Linked DNA regions of Homo sapiens. The protein of the gene in region 3 interacts with the protein of the main gene of each other region in a pairwise test. Each region holds a gene or a part of one and is shown on either strand. Other genes may lie near its edges. The genes, in order: TMEM161A, CD82, CHRM5, GOLGA8A, SLC2A6 and ATP9A.

What was found.
Region 1: the proteins of CHRM5 (region 3) and TMEM161A interact in a two-hybrid assay, tested with the Homo sapiens proteins (one large-scale study listed by BioGRID and IntAct).
Region 2: the proteins of CHRM5 (region 3) and CD82 interact in a two-hybrid assay, tested with the Homo sapiens proteins (one large-scale study listed by BioGRID and IntAct).
Region 4: the proteins of CHRM5 (region 3) and GOLGA8A interact in a two-hybrid assay, tested with the Homo sapiens proteins (one large-scale study listed by BioGRID and IntAct).
Region 5: the proteins of CHRM5 (region 3) and SLC2A6 interact in a two-hybrid assay, tested with the Homo sapiens proteins (one large-scale study listed by BioGRID and IntAct).
Region 6: the proteins of CHRM5 (region 3) and ATP9A interact in a two-hybrid assay, tested with the Homo sapiens proteins (one large-scale study listed by BioGRID and IntAct).

The regions. Positions count from the first base shown.
Region 1 is NC_000019.10:19,121,479-19,124,978, forward strand, and holds part of TMEM161A (transmembrane protein 161A isoform 1 precursor), read right to left. Parts: intron 342-3,500; coding exon 281-341; intron 191-280; coding exon 47-190; intron 1-46. UniProt on the Homo sapiens protein: May play a role in protection against oxidative stress. Overexpression leads to reduced levels of oxidant-induced DNA damage and apoptosis.
Region 2 is NC_000011.10:44,607,163-44,610,662, forward strand, and holds part of CD82 (CD82 antigen), read left to right. Parts: intron 1-3,500. UniProt on the Homo sapiens protein: Structural component of specialized membrane microdomains known as tetraspanin-enriched microdomains (TERMs), which act as platforms for receptor clustering and signaling.
Region 3 is NC_000015.10:33,971,497-33,974,996, reverse strand, and holds part of CHRM5 (muscarinic acetylcholine receptor M5), read right to left. Parts: intron 1-3,500. UniProt on the Homo sapiens protein: The muscarinic acetylcholine receptor mediates various cellular responses, including inhibition of adenylate cyclase, breakdown of phosphoinositides and modulation of potassium channels through the action of G proteins.
Region 4 is NC_000015.10:34,435,009-34,439,155, forward strand, and holds the start of GOLGA8A (golgin subfamily A member 8A), read right to left. Parts: upstream 2,801-4,147; 5' UTR 2,390-2,800; intron 464-2,389; 5' UTR 375-463; intron 1-374. UniProt on the Homo sapiens protein: May be involved in maintaining Golgi structure.
Region 5 is NC_000009.12:133,470,594-133,473,346, forward strand, and holds the end of SLC2A6 (solute carrier family 2, facilitated glucose transporter member 6), read right to left. Parts: intron 2,658-2,753; coding exon 2,512-2,657; intron 1,584-2,511; coding exon 1,428-1,583; 3' UTR 501-1,427; downstream 1-500. UniProt on the Homo sapiens protein: Probable sugar transporter that acts as a regulator of glycolysis in macrophages. Does not transport glucose.
Region 6 is NC_000020.11:51,618,391-51,621,890, forward strand, and holds part of ATP9A (probable phospholipid-transporting ATPase IIA), read right to left. Parts: intron 654-3,500; coding exon 564-653; intron 417-563; coding exon 272-416; intron 1-271. UniProt on the Homo sapiens protein: Plays a role in regulating membrane trafficking of cargo proteins, namely endosome to plasma membrane recycling, probably acting through RAB5 and RAB11 activation. Also involved in endosome to trans-Golgi network retrograde transport.

The DNA.
Region 1 (3,500 bases), on a different chromosome or scaffold from region 3:
CCCTTAAGCTCCCTAGTCCCCCCACCCACCAAGCGACCCACTTAACTGCAGCATGGGTCTGTCCTCCGACATGGTCAGTGCGTCCCGGTGGGTCTGGGCCAGCCGCAGGCCTGGGAAGGTGAGGAAGGCACCCAGCACAGAGCCCACCACTGCCAGTCCCACGCGGATAGCCAGCTTGGCCACAGGAAGCCTAGGAGAACACCAGGTCACGAGCCTGCCTGGGGGACCCTGGGAGGGTCCCAGCCTGCCCTTGCCTCCCTCCCCCATTCCCAGGACTCACGCCCAGTCCCAGCCCTGCTTCTTCAGAAGTGGCTCTAAGTTCTGGGTCATGCTGGCCAGACCTGGGGACGATAAGAAGAGGACCGAGTAGAGTGAATTCCTAGGGTCTCTAAGGCCACTCTGTTCCCTAACCCCCCATCCCTCAGGCATCCGTTTGCTTCCCAAGTAGGAATGAACAAGGGTCTGCCAGGCCCTGAGCCAGGCACAAGGACAATTTTGTGCTCTAGTTACACAGTACTTTTTACAAGAAACAAGATTGGAGTGGTGGTTCACGCCTGTAATCCCAGCACTTTGGGAGGCTGAGGCAGGCGGATCATCTGAGATCAGGAGTTTCAGACCAGCCTGGCCAATGCAGTGAAACCCCCGTCTCTACTAAAAATACAAAAATTAGCCAGGTGTGGTGGCAGGTGCCTGTAATCCCAGCTACTTGAGAGGCTGAGGCAGGAGAATCGCTTGAACATGGGGAGCGGAGGTTGCAGTGAGCTGAGACCGCACCATTGCACTCCAGCCTTGGGGACAAGAGTGAAACTCAGTCTCAAAGAAAACGAAACAGAATGCACCAGGCAGACACTCCTGATTGGGCTGGGAACATTCAGGGGTATCTGTTGAGCCTGAGCTCCCTAGGTTATAGAAGGAATCTAGAGGGGGATGAAGGACTCCTGCAGGAGAAAACCAAAGTCCTCCTGGAGGAAGGAATCCTCAATTCAGGACCCAAGATTTTTCAAAAATTAAGAGCAGGGCTGGGTGCAGTGGCTTGCACCTGTAAGTCTCAGCACTTTGGGAGGCCAAGGCGGGTGGATCGTTTGAGCTCACAAGTTTGAGACCAGCCTGGGCAACATGGCAAAACCCCCATCTCTACAAAAAATACAAAACCAGGGGTGGTGGTGCACGCCTATAGTCCCAGCTACTGTGAAGGCTGAGGTGGGAAGGATGGGTTGAGCCCAGGATGTGGAAGTTGCAGTGAGCTGAGATCATGCCACTGCACTCCAGCACAGAGCAAGACCTTGTCAAAAAAAAAAAAAAAAAGGAGCAAATTCATATGAGCTCACAGGCAAAATCACCAAATGCATAAGGAAACAAATCACCATAAAGGAGAGTTAACAGAAAAACAACAGTCAAGTTTAGGCCTCAAAGACTTCAGAAATTGGTGCTGTCAATTATGTGTCAAATGACTAAGGAAATGAAAGCTGTAATCACAGAACAAGTGACATGAGAATTCCTTCAGATGACTGGGTAGAGTTGCAAAGGAACCAAATTAAACTCTTCCAAAGGAAAACTGTAAGTATTGAAATAATAGGTTGTTAAACAGCACATTAGGAACAGCCAAAGGAGGAAGTGATGAACTGGAAGACAGATCTGAAGAAATCACTCAGATTCCAACTCAGAAAAACAAGTAGGTGAGAAATATGAAGAGAGGCTAAGAGATAAGGAAGACAGAACAGAGAGCCCAACGCAAATCAAATCAGAGCCCCAGAGGGAGGGAAGAGAAGGAATGAAGAATAAAAGGAATTACTGGAAGAGAATGGTTGAGAAGTTTGCAGAATGAAAGACAGACACAAAGTATATCAAACCATGTAAATAAAAAGAAATCCATACCTAGACATAATGGAGTGAAACTGCAGAACACCAAAAACAAAAAAATTACAAAGCAGCCAGGGAGTTAAGACAGATCACCTACAAAGGAACAACAATTAGGCTGACAGCCAATGTCAACTGCAACAACAGAAAAGGAACAAATAGAAAGCAAAAAAGTAAGATGGTAGAAACAAAGTCAAATATGTCAGTAATCACAATAAATGTAAGTAGACTAAACTTTAAAGTTAAATGACAAAGACTGTCAGACTACATTGAAAATATCCAGCTACATGTTTTTTAAAGGATGACATACCTTGACATAAAGTCACTGGAAGACTGAAAGTAAAGGGATGTTAAAAAGATACAGCAAATACTAATCAAAAGAAAGCAAGCTAGAAAGGCTATACTACTACCAGCCAAACTAGACTAAGAAGTAGTATTAGAATAGGCCAGGCGCGGTGGCTCACACCTGTAATCTCAGCACTTTGGGAGGCCAAGACGGGCAGATCACAAAGTCAGGAGTTCGAGACGAGCCTGGCCAACATGGTGAAACCCTGGCTCTACTAAAAATCCAAAAAATAGCTGGGCATGGTGGCGGGTAATACCAGCTACTTGGGAGGCTGAGGCAGGAGAATCGCTTGAACCCAGGAGGTGGAGGTTGCAGTGAGCCGAGATTGCGCCACTGCACTCCAGCCTGGCCAACGAGAGCAAAACTCTGTCTCAAAAAAAAAAAAAGTAGTATTAGAAGACAGAAGGGTTCCATACATCATGATAAAATGGCTGATTCACCAGGAAAATGTAACAGTTCTAAATCTGTGAATAGAACTAATCTGTGAATTGTGAATAGGCTGCAAAATATATAAAGAAAACACTGACAGAATTGATAGGGAAATTGAGAGCTCTCTTGTCCCAGAGGGAGATTAACTTCTGCTGACTGATAAGTCACAGACAAAAGGTTAGGCAAGATGGAGATTTGAATTTATTAAACTCATAGAGCCAGGGAATATGTCCTTCAATTAGAACATGTGAAAAAAGGCAAAACAACAAAAACAGAATATGTCCTTCAAGAAAACAAGGAATAGTCACAAAATGTGATCACATTCCAGGCCATAGGGCAAATCTTACCAAATTTTAAAGAAATTATTTCAAATAGACCATCTGTGCAATTGAGCTAGAAATAAATATGTATTTTTTAAAGATCTATGTTTGAAAAATTTAAAAATATTTAATAATCCATAGGTCAAAGCATAGCAAGACCCCATCTCTACAGAAATCAGAAGGGAAATGTTAAAACACCCCAAACAGAATAATAAAAAATATCAGTCAAAACTTGGGTAAACTGCCAGGTGTGATGGCTCACACCTGTAATCCCAGCACTTTGAGAGGCCGAGGTGGGTGGATCACCTGAGGTTAGGAGTTTGAGACCAGCCTGGCCAACATGGTAAAACCCCGTCTCTACTAAAAATACAAAAATTAGCCAGGCGTGGTGGCGTGCACCTGTAATCCCAGCTACTCAGGAGGCTGAGGCAGAAGAATTGCTTGAACCCAGGAGGCAGAGGTTGTAGTGAGCTGAGATTGCACAGTTGCACTCCAGCCTGGGTGACAAGAGCAAAACTCCATCTCAAAACAAAAACAAAAACAAAAAA
Region 2 (3,500 bases), on a different chromosome or scaffold from region 3:
AACTGAGAAAACACTATACCAACATCAACATCAACAAATAACATTTAATAGAACTTAGAACTTAATGGAACTTCACAAGACAAGATACTCTTGGTAGCTAAGGGCTAACTTGGGCACTGAGCTTCCTGGCAGTCAAGGCAAAAGTGGAAAATAGTGGATTTTGTAGATGAAAAGCAGCTTGTTTGGCTGTGAGACAGGAAGCCAGCAGTTAAGGGAGGGAAATTCCTTTCCCAGAAAAATGGTCATGGGGTCAGGTCTTCATTTCTGTCCTATGGCACTGAGCTTCTTTAGGACCTAGTTAGTGATATAATCAGGGTGGATTAGAACCAGGCCCCAGTGAGCCGGTTTCTATGACTCAGAAGCTGGTCGCCTCTGCAGGGATCTTGGGCAGTCCACCCTATGTGATTCACCATCTCACAGTAATAAATATGGCCCACCAGGTTGGCACCAACCACATGCCAGGAGCTGAGCTAGAAAAGTGAGCTGCAATACATGTTCAAATTTACAAACATTTTCCATTTGAAGAAACTGAGGCCCAGGAAAGCAAAGTGACTTTCAGCCACTGACACACACAGCTTGGATGCATCAGAGTGGGGATTTCCATCCTGATGCCTTGGAGTCCAAGGCCCATGCCTCCCTATCCACCACGCTGCCCTCCCGCCGGCTGGGTAACTCTGCTTGGCTGATAATGAGGAGCTTAGCCTCAGAGGTGTCCTATCAGCCCCAGAACAGGACTTGTTTGGAGATTTGGGTTTCTCGACCCCAGCCAAGCTCTGTGCATTGCACCCCCTGCCCCTGTCTTCCCCTTCAGAGTCCACACCCCCTAGTCCCAGCCTGCCTCACCTTAGTCCACCACCATCTTTTCTGGAAGGCAGGGGGAAATTTTCTGGCTTTGCTGAAGAAGTTCTGGTGCCACTGTATCGCCCGAATTGGAATGAACAATATATTTTTTTCTTTCGCAACGCATCATAAATCTCAGTGGAAGACTAAACATACTCTTGATGTGTTTATTCTGGCAGACAAGGCTCAGCGTGGGGGTGGGACTTGTTTGAACCTAAGGAAAAGAAAGGCCTTTTGAAAGGAGATAGGGCTCCCGTGCAGGTGGGTGGGAGTGACCCTGCTGTGGTCTCCAGGGCTGCCCTCTGTCCTTCCTGCCTCTGTCACCCGCAGCCACTCTTCTCAGGGCAGCGATGGGGAGGTTGGGGACCTTGGCATGGCCTGTCACCTCTGGAGCCTTGGGTTCTGCTTCTATAAATTGAGAATAAATCTGCCTCTCCCTGCTCTACCACTCAGGTTGAAGTGAACACAGACTGTGACACTTCTGTGAAAATGCAGAATGGTGTCCAAGGGTCTTGACTGTGGAACCACTGCTCTGACATTCTGGGCATGCTACTCAGCCTCCCTGTGCCTCAGTTTCCACATTTGTCAAACTAGTAACAATATAGGCCCACTGTCCCTTCTCTGCAATTCTGAAATCCAAAGAAACACTTTAAAAACCAAAAGTAGCATTTGCAACTAATTTGGTGGCAAAATTGAACCTGAACAGAAGCAAGGCTATGTATGGCCTTTGCCTGCCCCATTCGGGTGTCCCTAGGGAAATAGAAATGAGACTCACTGCAGGCTGCTGCCCCAGCCCCCACTAGTGGGTGTGATCTGTCCCTCCAGGCCCTTTCTAAAATCTGATCCTGTCTCGAGCCGGAGCCCCCAGGGGCTGCCTTGCAGCACTTCAGAGATGAAGAGCACTAACAAACGGGAAGGGCGTCGTGCGGCACTCAGCCGGAGGCTGATGTTGCTGGCATCATTGCCAGTGTTTATTATTATTGCCGCCATTATTCACTTCATGAAGGCCTGGTAAGGGCTCAATAGGTGGCAGCTGTTCCTGCTGCCCTCGTTGTCAGCAGAGCAAGGGCTGCGGGAATGGGGATCTGGGCACGGTGCTAAGATCCTCATCTGCTTGTTTATCCAGCCTCTGGTGAGCAGAGCCCAGCCCTGGGATTCAGGGGCCCTGTGTTTTAGTGTGGGCTCTGCCGCTGATTGCTGTGTGGCTTCGGATAAGTTACCCAGACTCTCTGATCCACAGGCGAGCTCTTGGGCCATGCCCAGTGCAGGCAGTCAGGGATTCTGACTTGTTCTCTCTAGAGAGTGGAGGTGGGAGGAGTGAGAAGGAAGTGAATGCAGTTTGCCCTTTCCTGTGGTGTGTGGGTGCTGAGCTGGGTGCACTTGGCAGGCCATACCTGTGCCAGGGAGGCCCCTGAGGCTCTGAGTGCTGTCACGCTCAAGCAGAAGACATTGGAGGGGAAGGGGCTCACTTGGCCTGGCTGGGAGCCAGAGGTGGGGGCTGTGACAGTGGCAGTGGCTGGCCAGACAACTCCCCAGAGATGTTGGTCAGGGGAACTGTGACTTCCTTCTTGTCCTCCTTGCTCTCACCCTGAAAGCCCCAAATTGTTGGTGCGCACATACCCTCATGTGTGAGACACAGGTGGCGAGACGGGTTCCTAGGGGACAGTGTGGTTCTCTGTGAACTGTCTGCTTGCTGAATTAGAACTTCCTGATTCTCTGGCTTGGGGTTCTCTTGCGATGGGGCAGAGGGAGGAAGAGCAGCTGGAGCCTGGGACAGGGAGAGGTGACCTTTCTCTCCCCTGTTGAGAAGGGAATGGAGGAGTCCAGGCTACCCCTCTGGAAAGGGATTATGGAAAGACACTTGGGCTAGAATCTCTGAAGCACACGCTGGTCACTGGCTCTGCATTCTGGGGTAGCTAATTACGTGGATTGCAGCTGGACTTGCAGAAAAGATGCAGGAAGCGCCCTCATTTCCTATCAGGGTACTGGGATGCAGCCTCTGAGCTGGTGTATCTGTATTCTAGCAAAGCATTTGCCAACATCTCATGTGGGAAACCTGGAGAGGACAGGAAGATGTGGGTCCAATTCATGCATTTATACCTTATTATAAGGGGCTATTTCACACCTTAAAGAGCATGGCAAGAGGTCTGCACAGCACCCCAAGGGGCGGGCACAGGAGCCCGAAAAGTTACCCTGGAGATGTAGTCTAGTCTCAAGTATCTGGATGACATGTGTCCTTCGAGAGAGGGATTTGATTTGTTCCTGTGGTCCTAGCTGGGACTTGGGTAGCTGAGAGAGGAGGAGGATGTGAACTAATACAAGTGGGTAGAAGTCATTTGAGCAGAACTTAAATTGTATCAGAGCCTCTCAACTCCGCAACATGCTATTGTGTGAGGTACTGACTTCCCCATCGCAGGGAGCATTTAAGCAGAGCCTAAAAAAGCATGACTCTTACATTTGGATGATTTGCTGGACGCAAAGGTCTCTCCTAACTCTGACTCTGTGAAAATTCACACTAAAAGAGAAGTCAAAGCTCAGCATTTGGGTGGGACGTGAGTAGAGCCATGCAGAGGACAGCAGGGTCATGGGGAGGCCCTGGGCAGCTTGCCGAGGCTAAGATCCCGGGTCCCTGGAGCTGCACAGATCAAGGTCTGGTCATG
Region 3 (3,500 bases):
AATCTGTTGTTCTTTTTTTCCTTCAGGATAGAGTTTCGCCCTTGTTGCTCAGGCTGGAGCGTAATGGTGCAATCTTGGCTCACTGCAAGCTCCACCTCCTGGGTTCAAGCGATTCTCCGGCCCCAGCCTCCAAGTAGCGGGGATTACAGGCATGCACCACCACACCCGGCTAATTTTTGTATTTTTATTAGAAACGGGGTTTCAACATGTTGGCCAGGCTGGTCTCAAACCCCTGACCTCAGGTGATCCACCTGCCTCGGCCTCCCAAAGTGCTGGGATTACAGGCGTGAGCCACTGTGCCCGGCCCAAAGCTCAAAATCTTAAGTTGTGCACGCCAACATCAAATCACAGATTTCTGTGAGGACGTACACATGCATTATTCATGTACCCTGAGCATCTTCAGACTATAGCTGCCCCCACCCCAACACACATGTTGATGAATTCTAGAGTGATGCTGGCCTACTTCAACACTCTGCTACTTTAATTTCTATCATAGGGGTTGAGGCACAGCATAGTCTTTTAGCCTTTGTCCCTGCTTTTAAAGAAATCACCATTGTTGGTATATTGTATGTTGGCATAAGGAGAAGAGATGACTTGGGGAGATATAACATAGGTAACTTGCAAAGATTCATTCCTCACAGAGAGTGAAAGAGGGAGAGGGGGCAGGTAGAGCATCCAACAGAATAAATGTAAGATTTTAAGTGTGTCACTTTCTCCACTCATCTTTGAATAGAAAGATGACTGTAGTATCTCTTCAATTTCATTTGCAAAGTACTTATTCAAATTCCCCTGAAGTCACTTTTTAATAGCAAGACCAATTTAGATCCTTTTGGATTATCGATGAAATTCTAGATCTAGTAGTATAGCAAACGTGATTTCCATATGTCAAATAGAGCAAAAGCATAAGGGATAAATTTGCTATCCTGTATTTGCATACCTCATAATATCATATACTATCCCTAACAGATATTATCTCCTTATAGCTATTATTTCAGTATAAACTACTTTAAAAGACTCCTTCATTAGACTTTTCTGCAGTTACCTACTTGCCTATTATCAGTGAAATGCAGCTGAGGTATATTTTAGGATCACTATTCTTCTGGCTGTCTGAGATTGTACCTGAGAATGCATTAAGATACATTTTCACATTCATTTAACACATCTGCTGATTAACTAGTCCTGAGCTTACCTTGGGAATAGACAGATAAATTAGATGTGGTCTTTACTCTTAAGGCCCTCAACCATGAAAAATGCAATTTCGTATGTCAGACAACTATATAAATAGATTTTCTTATTTTTTTAACTTTTAGATTTTTTTATAGAGATGGAGTCTTGCTGTGTTGCCTAGGTGGGTCTCGAACTCCTGGCCTCAAGCGATCCTCCAGCTTTGGCCTCCCAGAGTGCTGGGATTACAGGTTGCGCTTGGCCATAAATAGGTTTTCAATGGAATCTAACAAGGTGTTATGAAAGAAGTATCCTCAAAGTGTTGGGGAAGTTCCTAGGCATGAGAAGCTCTTCTGTAGGTATTACCAGAAGTTACCCAGAAGTTACTGCATGTAGAGGACTGTCTTTGCAACACAAATGAAGGGAAGGTATACAGTTGATGAAATATTAAGAGTTGTACTATGTTATATACTGAGCCTGATAGATTTACACCAACAGCTTTCTAGGTTACTGTACCAAAAAATTCTATAAATAGCTAAGGATTTTTAGTTGATAACTGAACTGGAAATCATCTCTGGCTTTTGCTTCTTAAAGAACACATTATTCAGTGCTACATTTCTATAGTGATAATCAGGAAATAAGAAGGCCCACGTAGTCTGATGATGACAACAGTGTGACGTCAAACAATGTCTATAAAAGTGGTAATGTTTTCTGATTGGTCCAGATTCTTGAGTTATTTCACTAATAATTTCAATACAAAAAATGGAGAATGTCAGATCTTTAAACAACTGCTGAATAACCCATTGGTTGTAATGAACCAGTACATAGGACTGAATAAATGCTTTAAGAATTCTCTACACACCACTGGATCAAGCAATCTGTGTAACTGTAGATAATGAGACTTCAGCTTGACTTGTAATTATGCGTGGAGTAGTTAACTGTATTTTTTACACATCATCTTTGTATAGGCTCTGAGTCTAGGAGGGTCAGTCACAAATGACTGATACTCTGAATCAGGGTATTGCCACTAATCAAAGGACAGACTGCACATGTGTTCAGTGTGGAAGGATTAGTTGGTCTGCTTTGTCTTTTGGCTACTGTTGCAAACAAAGATTACAAAAAGAGGTCTGTATATGCCTATGTGTTTGTAAAAGGAGCTTTCATTTTTGTTTCCTTAATTGAACCCTAACTCCTGATTTATTTTTATTTATTTTTTACAAATATTTGTTGAAGACTTTCAGAGAACACAGAAGTTTTGCTAATTCAAGACAGTCCTTTGTTTTTTTGTTTTTGTTTTTGTTTTTGTTTTCTGTTGTTGTTTTTGTTTTTTAACAAATCCATGCTGTTTTAGAAAGGTGTTAACCAGCCCCCTCCCTGCCCTCATACTAGTCCATGTGTCAGATACTAATTAATCTATGTCATGGGATCACTTTATAATCTATATTTAGGGATCTCTTTCTCATTCAGAGACACCGTCTTTCTCATTTTGGGTGTTTTGGTAATTTTTCAATTTTCTGAGTAGCATCAGTATTTCTGCTTGAACCAAGGTGAAATTTTGCATCTATTTCTCAGTTCTCTAGGGGCCTCTTTCATGACTGTCTGCTTGCTTACTGGTATTTTCCTTACTCCCGTTTTATCATGGTCTGTGAATTTAACCAACATGATGTTTACTCCCGCTTTTGAATTATTAATGAGAAAACTGTGAGATGGTACTTTTATCTTTAATAGTTGATGCTGAAAAAGTGACAAATGCAATAAAAGCATCTTTCTCTAATTCAGTTCCTGTCATGCATCTCTTTAGTGTCTTGGTGATATGACTTGAAATAATAGTGCTTACATCTCTCTTTTAGCTAGTTCACACTGAAAGCATATAATCATCTGTTTGATATCAGAGCCACTTCCCAGTCACAGATTGTGATGTCACAAACCAAAGATTGTTCTCTCTCAGCAGGAAGAAGCTGGAGAGGAGATGATCTTCATGGTGAACTACATCCTTATTCAAATTTGGTCACTTCATAAGGAAAATTAACCATAATAAGGAACAAATATATTGGCTAGTTGAAATGCCCAGTTGAATTAAGCTTGAAACACGGTGCCATTATAATGGAATGAAAAAAATTCCTTATGAAAACTTAAAGTTATAATAATGAAGATATAAGTAAATATATATTTAATGCATTTAAAAATATTATGCAATGTCCCTTTAAGTTGAATGCTAACACAGAAAAATGAATTTTAGGTATGTTTCTAATTTTATATACAAAATTATGTTGCTTGGTATTTCAGACAAAAATTACTTTTTAAGATTGTTATGTCAACATACACGAAATGGATGT
Region 4 (4,147 bases), 460 kb from region 3:
GATCCCCACCGACCGCCAGTCCTCTCCTCCCCTGGACAGTAAAGGTTTCTCCAAGACTTCAGACGACGGTGTCACCTGAGGCCCTCACCTATTAAGTCACCGGGGCAGGTATGCATGGCAGAGGACACGGAGGAGTGCCGGAGAGGAGCTGAGGCCTGGAGGGGGCCTCTGCAGCCAGGCTCAACCCCCACTCTCCCCACTCCAACAGCCCTCACTGCAGCCACCGCGGCCCAATCCAAACAAAGCCCAGCCTGATGCCAATCTCACCATCAACTGTTTTTCCTCTGACTTCCTCAGTTTTGTCTAGGAAAAATCAAAGTGTCTTATCCCATCTCTAAGCTTCCAGGGGTGTGATCAGTGTCTTTTACAATTACCTTTTACTTTTATCCAGCATTTCTTAGCTCGGTTGGCAAACTGGATATTTATGCACCTCCATTTCACAATCCATCTCCACCGATTATTCCTGTAAAACATTTTTTTTTTTAAAGTTTAGAGTTACTTAAGAAGGTTATGTAAACAAGTTAACCAGCAAGCCACAACTTGGGTCTGCGGTGTCAGAGAAAACATGCAAGGTGCAAGAGAATGAGGAGCTGATGGTCACCAGCTTTACCTCCTTCCAGCACCCACTCCTGCTCACACACACTCACACCCCGTGGGACTCAGCCTGCAGCTTCTCCCAGCCCAAGAGCCAGACAGTGGGGAGGAGCACAGACCACACTTCCTAACAAATGAGAGGGAAGACTTCGTGCCCCATTGCTACTGCCATCACCCAGTCCCAGCCCAGAGAGGGAGCCCACTCCAAGGGCCCCCCTGCCAGTACTGCTAGAGCCCACCGAGGGCTGCCAGCACACAGCTACGAGCTCCAGCTTTATCTACTCACGCCCTGGACACTGCCCGGAGCCCCAGCAGGTTCCACGTGTCCTTGTCACCCCAGCCCTCCTGCCCCGCGGATCCTAAGCTCAGGAGACCCTCTCCAGCCCAGGCTGTGGGGGAAGGCAGCCCCCACGGTCACCCAGGAATCAGCGCAGAGTGCAGGGCATCCTGGACTCCCCGGACTGGGAAACCCAGTTCCTGTCCCCCTGCGTAGTGGCCACACCTCTGGGAGGGGAGAAACCCCTGCCTCACCTCACTGGAGGGACCCTGACCCAGAGGCCTGAGAAAAAGCCACCGGCAGGCTCCTGGCACCTGCCAACCTGCACCTTAGGAAAACTTGTCCCACTTCAACCTGCAAAGCTCTCAGGTCATTACTTCTAAAACCACTGTCCTTTCTGAAACAGGAAGGAAAATAGAAAAACAAACAAAAACAAAGAGGCACAGAAGGCTGAAGACGCCAGAGGCAGTTTAGCCCAAAAACAAAGTGCCAGACACAAGATGCCAAGTTTGGGGCGCTTCCTCCACCGCATGCCTGTTTAGGAGCTGACTGCACTCAACCACAGATTTACGTCTGGTGCCTGCCAGGTCGTTATCTGAAGAGATCTGAAAAAGTAAGCCTTTCTTCTGCCAGTAAATACTAAGTTAAGACTAGCAGGCCCCTCTAAGGCTCTGCTCTCCACTGGGGTGCTGCAGGACAGGCCCCTCCGCGGGCGTTCCCCGCACCCTCCCTCCGCGTCGGCCCGGAGAAAAGGAAGTTCGCCCCTAGCCTGGGCTTACCAAGGCCCGCCGCCCGACCCATGGAGCCCTGCTTGGGGACCGGGGGCCTCGATGTTCTCCTTCACCATCTGCGGCCAGATCTCCCTCCAGCAGCCTTGCCAGGCAGTGCCTGGCGTGGAGAAGGGGCCCTGCAGAGGCGCAGGTCCGCACCGTGCCCCCAACCCGGCGCCTGCAGCCCAGGGGCAACAAGGTGTGGGGTTTTTGAGTTTTTCCCTCTGGGCCTTATTATACAGGGAAAGGGAAGGGGCGAAGATCCGGGCTCGAGTTCTCCCAGGGAAGTGAACCCAGAGGCGATCCCAAACTCAGTAGTTGCCGCCCGGCACGGGGACTTGATGCCGGCGCCAAGCCGGGCAGCGGAACGCACCAGCGGCCCGACCAGCCCGGCGAGACGCGAGCGGGCGGCCCCGCCAGACAGCGCCACTTGCCGGCGCCGAGAGTGGCCCCTCGCCGCGGTGAGCCCCTCCCGGGATGCGAAAGCCATCGCCTAGTCCCCGCCGCACCCGCCCGCCCATCGTGGGAGGAGGATGGGCCGGTCCGAGAGGCGTAAGGCCGCCGGGCTGCACCCCTAGATCCCAGCGGCGGCCTCCCCGCAGCCCCGCCGAGTCCGGGGGGCAGCGCTCGGGAGCTCTTGGCCCGCAGCTTACGCGCCGCCCCCCACGCGTCCGGGTCCCCGCGGCGCCGCGGGCGGCCCAAGGCTGCCGCCGCCAGCGAGTCAGGCAGCCGAGGTTCCCCAGCTTACCTGGCCAGGGCGCGGGGCTGCCCCGGTCCGCCGCCGTCCTCGCCGCGCCGCCGTCCTCGCCGCGCCGCCGTCCTCGCCGCGCCGCCGTCCTCGCCGCGCCGCCGTCCTCGCCGCGCCGCCGTCCTCGCCGCGCCGCCGTCCTCGCCGCGCCGCCGTCCTCGCCGCGCCGCCGTCCTCGCCGCGCCGCCGTCCTCGCCGCGCCGCCGTCCTCGCCGCGCCGCCGTCCTCGCCGCGCCGCCGTCCTCGCCGCGCCGCCGTCCTCGCCGCGCCGCCGTCCTCGCCGCGCCGCCGTCCTCGCCGCGCCGCCGTCCTCGCCGCGCCGCTGCCGGGTCTCTCCCGGGGGCTGAGCTCCCGCAGAGCTCGCGCCTAGCCGCACACCTCGACTGCTGATTAGCCCGACAGCTGAATAGCGGCGGGAGCCTACCGCGAGCGGAGTACGGAAAGCCCGCAGGGCCGCGCCACATGGCGCACGCGCACTGAGCTGCATACCTAGGTGACAAACGTGCACGTTTTGCACGTGTATCCCAGAACTTAAAGCATGACAAAATTTTTTTTTAAAAAACCCTGATGCCATTATTAGGAACAATTTGAATAGATCAGTCACAACCTATATGCTGGCTTCTGGTGTCTCAATTTGTCCTGGGAAAACTGTTGTAAAGCAATAGTATGTCAGTCCTTATATACTTATCCATCTCCAATCTGGAAAGACAAGGCTTATATGTTTCCTTTTTAGTCCCCTAATTTCTCTTTATGACACAAATCCAGTTGGCAGTATTAAAGATGGGGCTGATTCTCCTTTACTTATCTGGAATATGCTACCATTCCAGATAAGTAATAGTAAAATGGCCATTTCCTCTTGCTAATCAAATGTCGTTTTTGAACACAAAAGCCACTGGGTTTGGAGTATGAAACATAAACATAAAACATATCATACACTATCTGTGACGTTTTCATAAACTCACATGATCCTTTTATATTTTTCTCTTATATAAAACGAAATACTTTCCATTAAAAATTGAGATATTTAAATGAGAAAATGCTTGCCAATGTTATTAAAATATAAAATTTTATTATTTATTCAAAGAAAATGGTCACTTTTGGTTTGTGCTAAAAAATAACAGTAACAGTAGAAGCCTGCTTTAAAATATTTTAAGTGTGCGATATCATATTACTTCTCATTTACTCTTTGCGTTTCTAGAGAGCCAAGTTTATTTTTTTCTCAATTCAGTTTAAAATCAGAGGGAACAAAATTTGAAACGTGACATAATATCAAGGTTAACATGCTAGCTATGTAATAACTGTAAAATTTGGCCACAAATGCATTTGCTTTGAGAAAAATGATCATGTGAAATTCCTAAATATTTGGGCCATATGGAAGATGATATCAGAAGAATAATATATTCTCTGTATGTCAAAGGAGGAGGATAATAAAAACCGTAGTTATTAGGTTAGTACAAAAACAATTACAGTATTCGCCATTGCCAAAAATTGCAATTGCTTTTGCACCAAGGTAGTAATAAAAGTATGGTTGAGTTTCTGTAGAATTCCGGCAAAGGATGAGCATCCTTAATCTGAAATCCAAAACTCTCCCAAATTCGAAATTTTTTGGGTGCCCATATGATGCCTCAAGTACAAAATTCTACACCTGACCTCATGCAATGTATCATAGCCAAAGCACAGGTACACAACACATAGTTTATTCAGTGCTTTCAAGAGAAAATTAAAATTAACATGAGGCTACATGTAAATAAATTTTGT
Region 5 (2,753 bases), on a different chromosome or scaffold from region 3:
TCGCCCAGGGGGCGTGCTGTCCAGCAGGGGCCCTGCCTTGCAAGGAACGTCTCTTCCGGCGGCTGGGCCGCTCCTGCCTGGTCTGGGCTGTGTGTGGCGCCCTTTCCTCCTTGTTTGTTCCTCTGTGTTCTGTGTGCGTCTTAAGCAATAAAGCGTGGCCGTGGCTCGCGTGCCTGCCCTCTGCTCCCTTCTGCCTTGGTGCCTGTGTGTGAGTGTGGAAGCCAGGCAGGAGCCGCTGGCCCAGGAAATAACTACAGGTCCTGTCCCGAGGCTGCCCCCAGCATCCCAGACAAGGAAAGTGACCTGCCCAAGGTCACACAGCTAGAAAGAGCCTGTTAAGGGTGGGCCTCGCAGTGGGCTTCCCCTCACTGCAGCCTTTTCCCTGCCCTGCTTTTGCTATGGATCAGCAGTCAGTGGCCCTGGCAACCTTGGCTGGTTCGGGTCTAGCCTGGCTGCTGTGGGGGCTCCTGGAGTAGACCCCACTCTTTCCTCGCTAGGACTACAGGTCCAGTTCCTTTATTTTTACAAAAGGGTGAACACAGTTTGCAGATAGGAGCTGCCTGTTCCCAGAGGTTGGGCTGGGGCAGGAGGAAGTGGCCACGCCAGGTCCTTTGCCCTGGCTTTTTTTTTTTTTTTTTTGGCAGGGGGTGGGGACGGAGTTTCACTCTCGTTGCCCAGGCTGGAGTGCAATGGCATGATCTCAGCTCATTGCAGCCTCCACCTCCCGGGTTCAAGCAATGCTGCCTCAGCCTCCCAAGTAGCTGGAACTACGGGTGTGTGCCACCACACCCAGCTTTTTTGTATTTTTTAGTAGAGACGGGGTTTCACCATGTTGGCCAGGCTGGTCTTGAACTCCTGGCCTTGGGTAATCCACCTGCTTTGGCCTCCCAAAGTGCTGGGATTACAGGCGTGAGCCACTGTGCCCGGCCTGCCCTGGCTTTTTAAGTCCAGGATGTTCCCTGTGGTGCCCATAAGACTTGTGAGGGCAAAGCCGGGTCTTCCTTGCACAGCCAGATGCCACCAGATCAGAGCGCGATGATATGACTACGTTACTTGGCTGCCTCCAGCCCTGTCCTCTCAGTCCTCCCCGTAGCCTTCTGTGGGGCGTGTCCTTCACGCAAGGGAAAGGGACTAGGCCTGAGGTCACCCAGCAGGGCCGTGTCCCTGGATGCAGGGTTGTATGCACTCCTGCGGCCCATGGCTACGTGCAGCACTGTGGGCTGCCTGGGCTGGGGCTGTGGCTGGACAGCAGTGCTACCTGTCCCGAGCCAGGGGCACCCGCTGCTGAGGCCCCATCACACTGCTCTTCCTGTGCTCTGGCTGGTGGCAGGGATGACTGCTGCCTCTTGGTCCCAGGGTGCAGGTTTGTAGCCAACACAGAGGCCCAGCCACTGGGGGTTTGGCCCCCTCCAGGCGGGGACCTTGACCTAGCGCAAGAAGGACCTTCTCCCCGTGCGGAAGAAGGACTCGATCTGCTCCAGGGACCGTCCCTTGGTCTCGGGCACACAGCAGCCTGTGAACACCAGGCTCACCAAGCAGATGGCCGCGAAGAAGAAGAAAGGCACCTGGAGGCCGAAGGTGCTCTGCGGGTGAAGAGCGGGGCCGGGTCACAGGGAGAAGCTCCAGGGTCCTCCTGCCCCAGAGGAGCTCGTGGGCGCTGCTGGTAGTGACCAGCCCTGTGGGGCCTTCATCTGGTCCTTCCTGTGTTCAGAGACCGCCCCCCCACACCAGGGCTCCCCCACTGTCCCCAGGACAAATCCGAAGTAGCCCTTGAAGTCTGCATCCCGTCTGCCCCTCGGCCTTCCTCAGGGGCTGGGCCCTCTGGCGTCAGCTCAGGTACCCCCTCCACACCCCCTACCCAGCGCTGGCATCCCAGCTGTTCCATGCCGCGGCCTGCAGGAGGCCCGCCCTGCAGCCTGGTGGGCACGCAGGTTCTTCTTGGACCCTCTAGGCTGATGGACTCACTCTGGGTTGCCTGCCCTCCCCCAACCCCCCTGCCCTGACCACTGCAGGGACAGCTTAGGCGCTGGCCTAGGCTGCCCTAGCCAGCTTCTCCCTCATGGGAACTTACTCTGGGCCTCACAGATTCTGGCTGGTCACAGGGCCCGTAGTTTTGAACCAGGAGGCAGGGGGAGTGGGTGGGGTTGAGGGGGGAGTGTGGCTGCTGCTGAGACCCAGCGCCCAGGAGGGCGGGAGATGAGGCACGGTGGGGAGGTGGCTTCCGGGGCCCCTGGCAGGGTCCTGGGCCATGTCCTGCCCTGGCCCAGGAGGTAACCTGACTTCCCAGAACAGTTGCCTACGCCCGTTCCTGTTTCTTATAATGAAGAGCGTTTGCTAGGCTATCACGTGACCACTCTGGGGTCTCTGAGTTCAGGGGGTGTGTGCTCATCTCCTAGGGTCACTGAGAGTTAGGGTCCTGACAGCAGGCCTTGGCACAGCCCCTGGCACTGAGAAGGGTCCTGGCCAGTCAGAGAGGGCCTAGGGGCCTGGGGCCTGGGGCTGAACACTCACCACCACTGGCAGGAAGGACTTGGTGAGGACGAAGGCGGTGAGCCAGCTGGCCAGCACGCAGAGCCCTGAGGCCACGCCACGGGCACGCAGGGGCAGGACCTCAGACATGAGCAGCCAGGTGATGGGACCCCAGCCCACGGCGTAGCCTGCTCGGAGGAGGAGGCAGGTTCAGGCCCTGTGGGGTGACTGGAGGCGGCTGTGTCTGTCTCCGCTGAGCTGCTGGAGACCCCCCTCTCCAGCCA
Region 6 (3,500 bases), on a different chromosome or scaffold from region 3:
ACAGTGTGTGGTCTCCACCCCCTGGAAGGCTGCACTCTTGAGCCACTGGCAAAGGAGTAGAGGCCTGGCACGTGCTTATCTACTCTCCAAGGGAAATATTAAAAATAATAACAAAAAGAGCCAAAGTCTGAGAGGTGGAGAAAAATCATGACCTGAACAAAGGGGCCTGGGGAATTTGAAGAAAGAGCAGCAGTGTCCAAATATCCTTAGGGAAAGGGAGCCTGGTGCACCGGCAGGCCAGGGCCAGCAGCACAGCCTGAGCCTCGCCTACCTACTGCACAGGTGAGCTTGCCCGTGCGCTCCTGAAGCAGGCGCACGATCTGGGCCTTCTGGGTGGGGGCACATCGGCAGCAGACTACGGCCGGGCACTGGCAGGCCAGCTCCATGAACTCGTACTCATAGTACTTGAGGCAAACCTGCAGGGTGGAGGGAGAGGTGGTGCGTTGGTGGAGGGAGAGGTGGTGCGTTGGTGGAGGTCGCTGCCGAGCCTGCAGTGCCCCTGCCGAAGCCGGGTAAGACCCAGGCTGCTGGGAGGACTGGCTCTCAGGGGTCCCCAAGCTCACCTCCAGGGAGTCTCCCGAGATGACCAGGGCACAATCATGCTTCCTGCGGAAGGCGTTCAGCTCGAGGTGAGCCTCCCCGCGGTTGGTCACCTGGAAGGGAACAGAGATGGGGAAGGAGGCATTGCTCTCCGGACATGATAGAACAACAAACAGTGGCTTCCAGGAGCCCACATGAAGACAACGGCCACCCCAGCCAAGGGTCCCTCCCCTCCCCTGCCACCAGAGGCAGCACCAAATGGAATCCTATTGGTTGACTCTGCAGGAATCAAGAGAGCCCATGTGCCAACCACCACCTACAATTTCCCCCAGGACTAAAAATGCCTGTACTGGCCAAGCGCAGTGGCTCATGCCTGTAATCCCAGCACTTTGGGAGGCTGAGGCGGGCAGATCACTTGAAGTCAGGAGTTTGAGACCAGCCTTGCCAACATGGTGAAACCCACTCTCTACTAAAAATAGAAAATTAGCTGGGCATGGTGGTGGGTGCCTGTAATTCTAGCTACTTGGGAGGCTGAGGCAGGAGAATCACTTGAACCCAGGAGGCAGAGGCTGCAGTGAGCCGAGATCATGCCACTGCACTGGCAGTATGGGCAACAGAGCAAGACTCGTCTTTTAAAAAAAAAAAAGGGGGGGGGGGGCCAGGTACGGTGGCTCACACCTGTAATCTCAGCACCTTGGGAGGCTGAGGTGGGCGGATCACCTGAGGTCAGGAGTTCAAGACCAGCCTGACCCACATGGAGAAACCCCATCTCTACTAAAAATACAAAATTAGCCGGGCTTGGTGGCACATGCCTATAATCCCAGCTACTTGGGAAGGCTGAGGCAGGAGAATCGCTTGAACCTGGGAGGTGGAGGTTGCGGTGAGCCGAGATCATGCCATTGCACTCCAGCCTGGGCAACAAGAGCAAAACTCTGTCTCAAAAAAAAAAAAAAAAAAAGCCTGTACTTTCATTTTCGGCCAGGTGTTGGATGATGCATTCGGTGGATTTTTCTCATTTATTTCTCACAACGGCTCTATGAGGTGCCAAAAAGAAGAAGCTCTATTTTGCACCTAAGGAAACTGAAGCATGGTGACATCTGCTAACCTGACTAAAGGCACATGGCTAGTATGCTGTAGCCCAGGTATGCAGAGCCAGGCACCTAGCAGGGACTGGGCCACTTTTCTGTAAAGGACCAGATGTTAACTATTGTAGGCTTTGAGGACCACATGGTCTCCATCACAACCACTCAGCTCTGCCGTTGTAATCCAAAAGCAGTCGTACACCATATGCAAACGAGCCGGTCTGTCTACACTCCAATAAAACAAAATACCTGCTGTTTAGAAAAACAGGTGGCTAGCACATAGGTCATTAGTTTGCAATCCCTGAATTCTAGAACAGACAGTCAATTCTCATTATTCATAGTAGCTATGTTTTCTAAAGTCACTGTGAACACTGAATTAGCAAATACTAAACCATCACCTGTAGGGGAAATACAGGGTTAGGTTTTTGCCCCTGGTTGCAATATCTTCATAAATATATAACCTTATTTTATGTGCGTTTCTACTTAAAGACACCTGGATTCATTAACATTGAGCTCACAGCCACCAGTTCTGTAACTCATGCCTGCAGGAAGCTCATCTAACACACGCATTCGCTCCATAAGTCACATCAACAGCCTTCCTGTTGATGTGACTTATGGATGTTGGGAAGTTCAAGTTCCAGAAAACAAGCCAGCAAAGAAGCGCTGTGTGCGGCCATTTTAAACGACAAACTGCCAACAAAAAGCATAAAAATGCAAAAAACCGGATACTCGATGGACTGCAAAAACGACACTGGTTCGTCACACGGGGCTGAAAGGAGGGGGGAGTGCGTGAGCTTGTTCAGCCTCAGGTGGGAATGTGTGTCTCAGGCAGCTAAAATTTTAAGCCACTCTAGGCCAGGCGCGGTGGCTCACGCCTGTAATCCCAGCACTTTGGGAGGCTGAAGTGGGAGAATCACCTGAGGTCAGGGGTTCGAGACCAGCCTGGCCAAAATGGTGAAACCCGTCTCTACTAAAAACACAAAAATTAGCCAGGTGTGGTGGCAGGCGCCTGTAATCCCAGCTACTTGGGAGGCTGAGGCAGAAGAATTGCTTGAACCCAGGAGGCGGAGGTTGCAGTGAGCCAAGATTGCACCACTGCACCCCAGCCTGGGTGATAAGAGCAAGGCCCCATCTCAAAAAAAAAAAAAAAAGGAGAGATTTAAGCCACTCTACGTATGACAGTGAAAATATCAAGAGTACTGATTTGGAGGTCACAGATAAATTTTGGGAGGAGGAGAATTCACAAAGAATCTGTGAATGATGAGAACTGACTGTACCTGCCTCTATACAATACTATGCTATTTCAAAAATCCCTGGATTTTTTGAAGCTTCTGTGTGCTATGGACCAAAGGCGGGGTGAGGGCGAGACCCCCAAACATCTAGAGACCCTCCAGTGGTTTGCCATCGTGGCTCTGGTTTCAGATCAGTGGGATTACTATATCCTGCCCCAAAGAGGACCCGGTCCCCCTACCTCCCCAATGCAATAAAGCCTAGCACAGTCCTCACTGGCAGCAGTTCCTGATGTGCACATTGTCTTGGTCAATGTCTGCCACAAGGGCGGGCGATTTCTCATTTGCCCATCCAGTTCACCTCCTTCAAAAGGCTCCTCAATGGTCCTAAATGCTTCCCCTCTCAGGAGGGCAGATGGACCAGTATCTGTGGCCTGGAATTTCTTTCTTATCCAAGGACTTGACTTTCAGGGGTTCCGTGAAATCCCAGGAATCCCATGCATAATTTCATGTGTATGAGTGGATCTGCATCTTTCGGGGGGAGTGCCTGACTTTCATCAGCTTCTCAAAGGGACCACGACCCCCAAAAGGTTAAGAGCATGGCATTAGCACAGGGCTAGAAGGAGGTACTCCCAAACCACTACTGGAA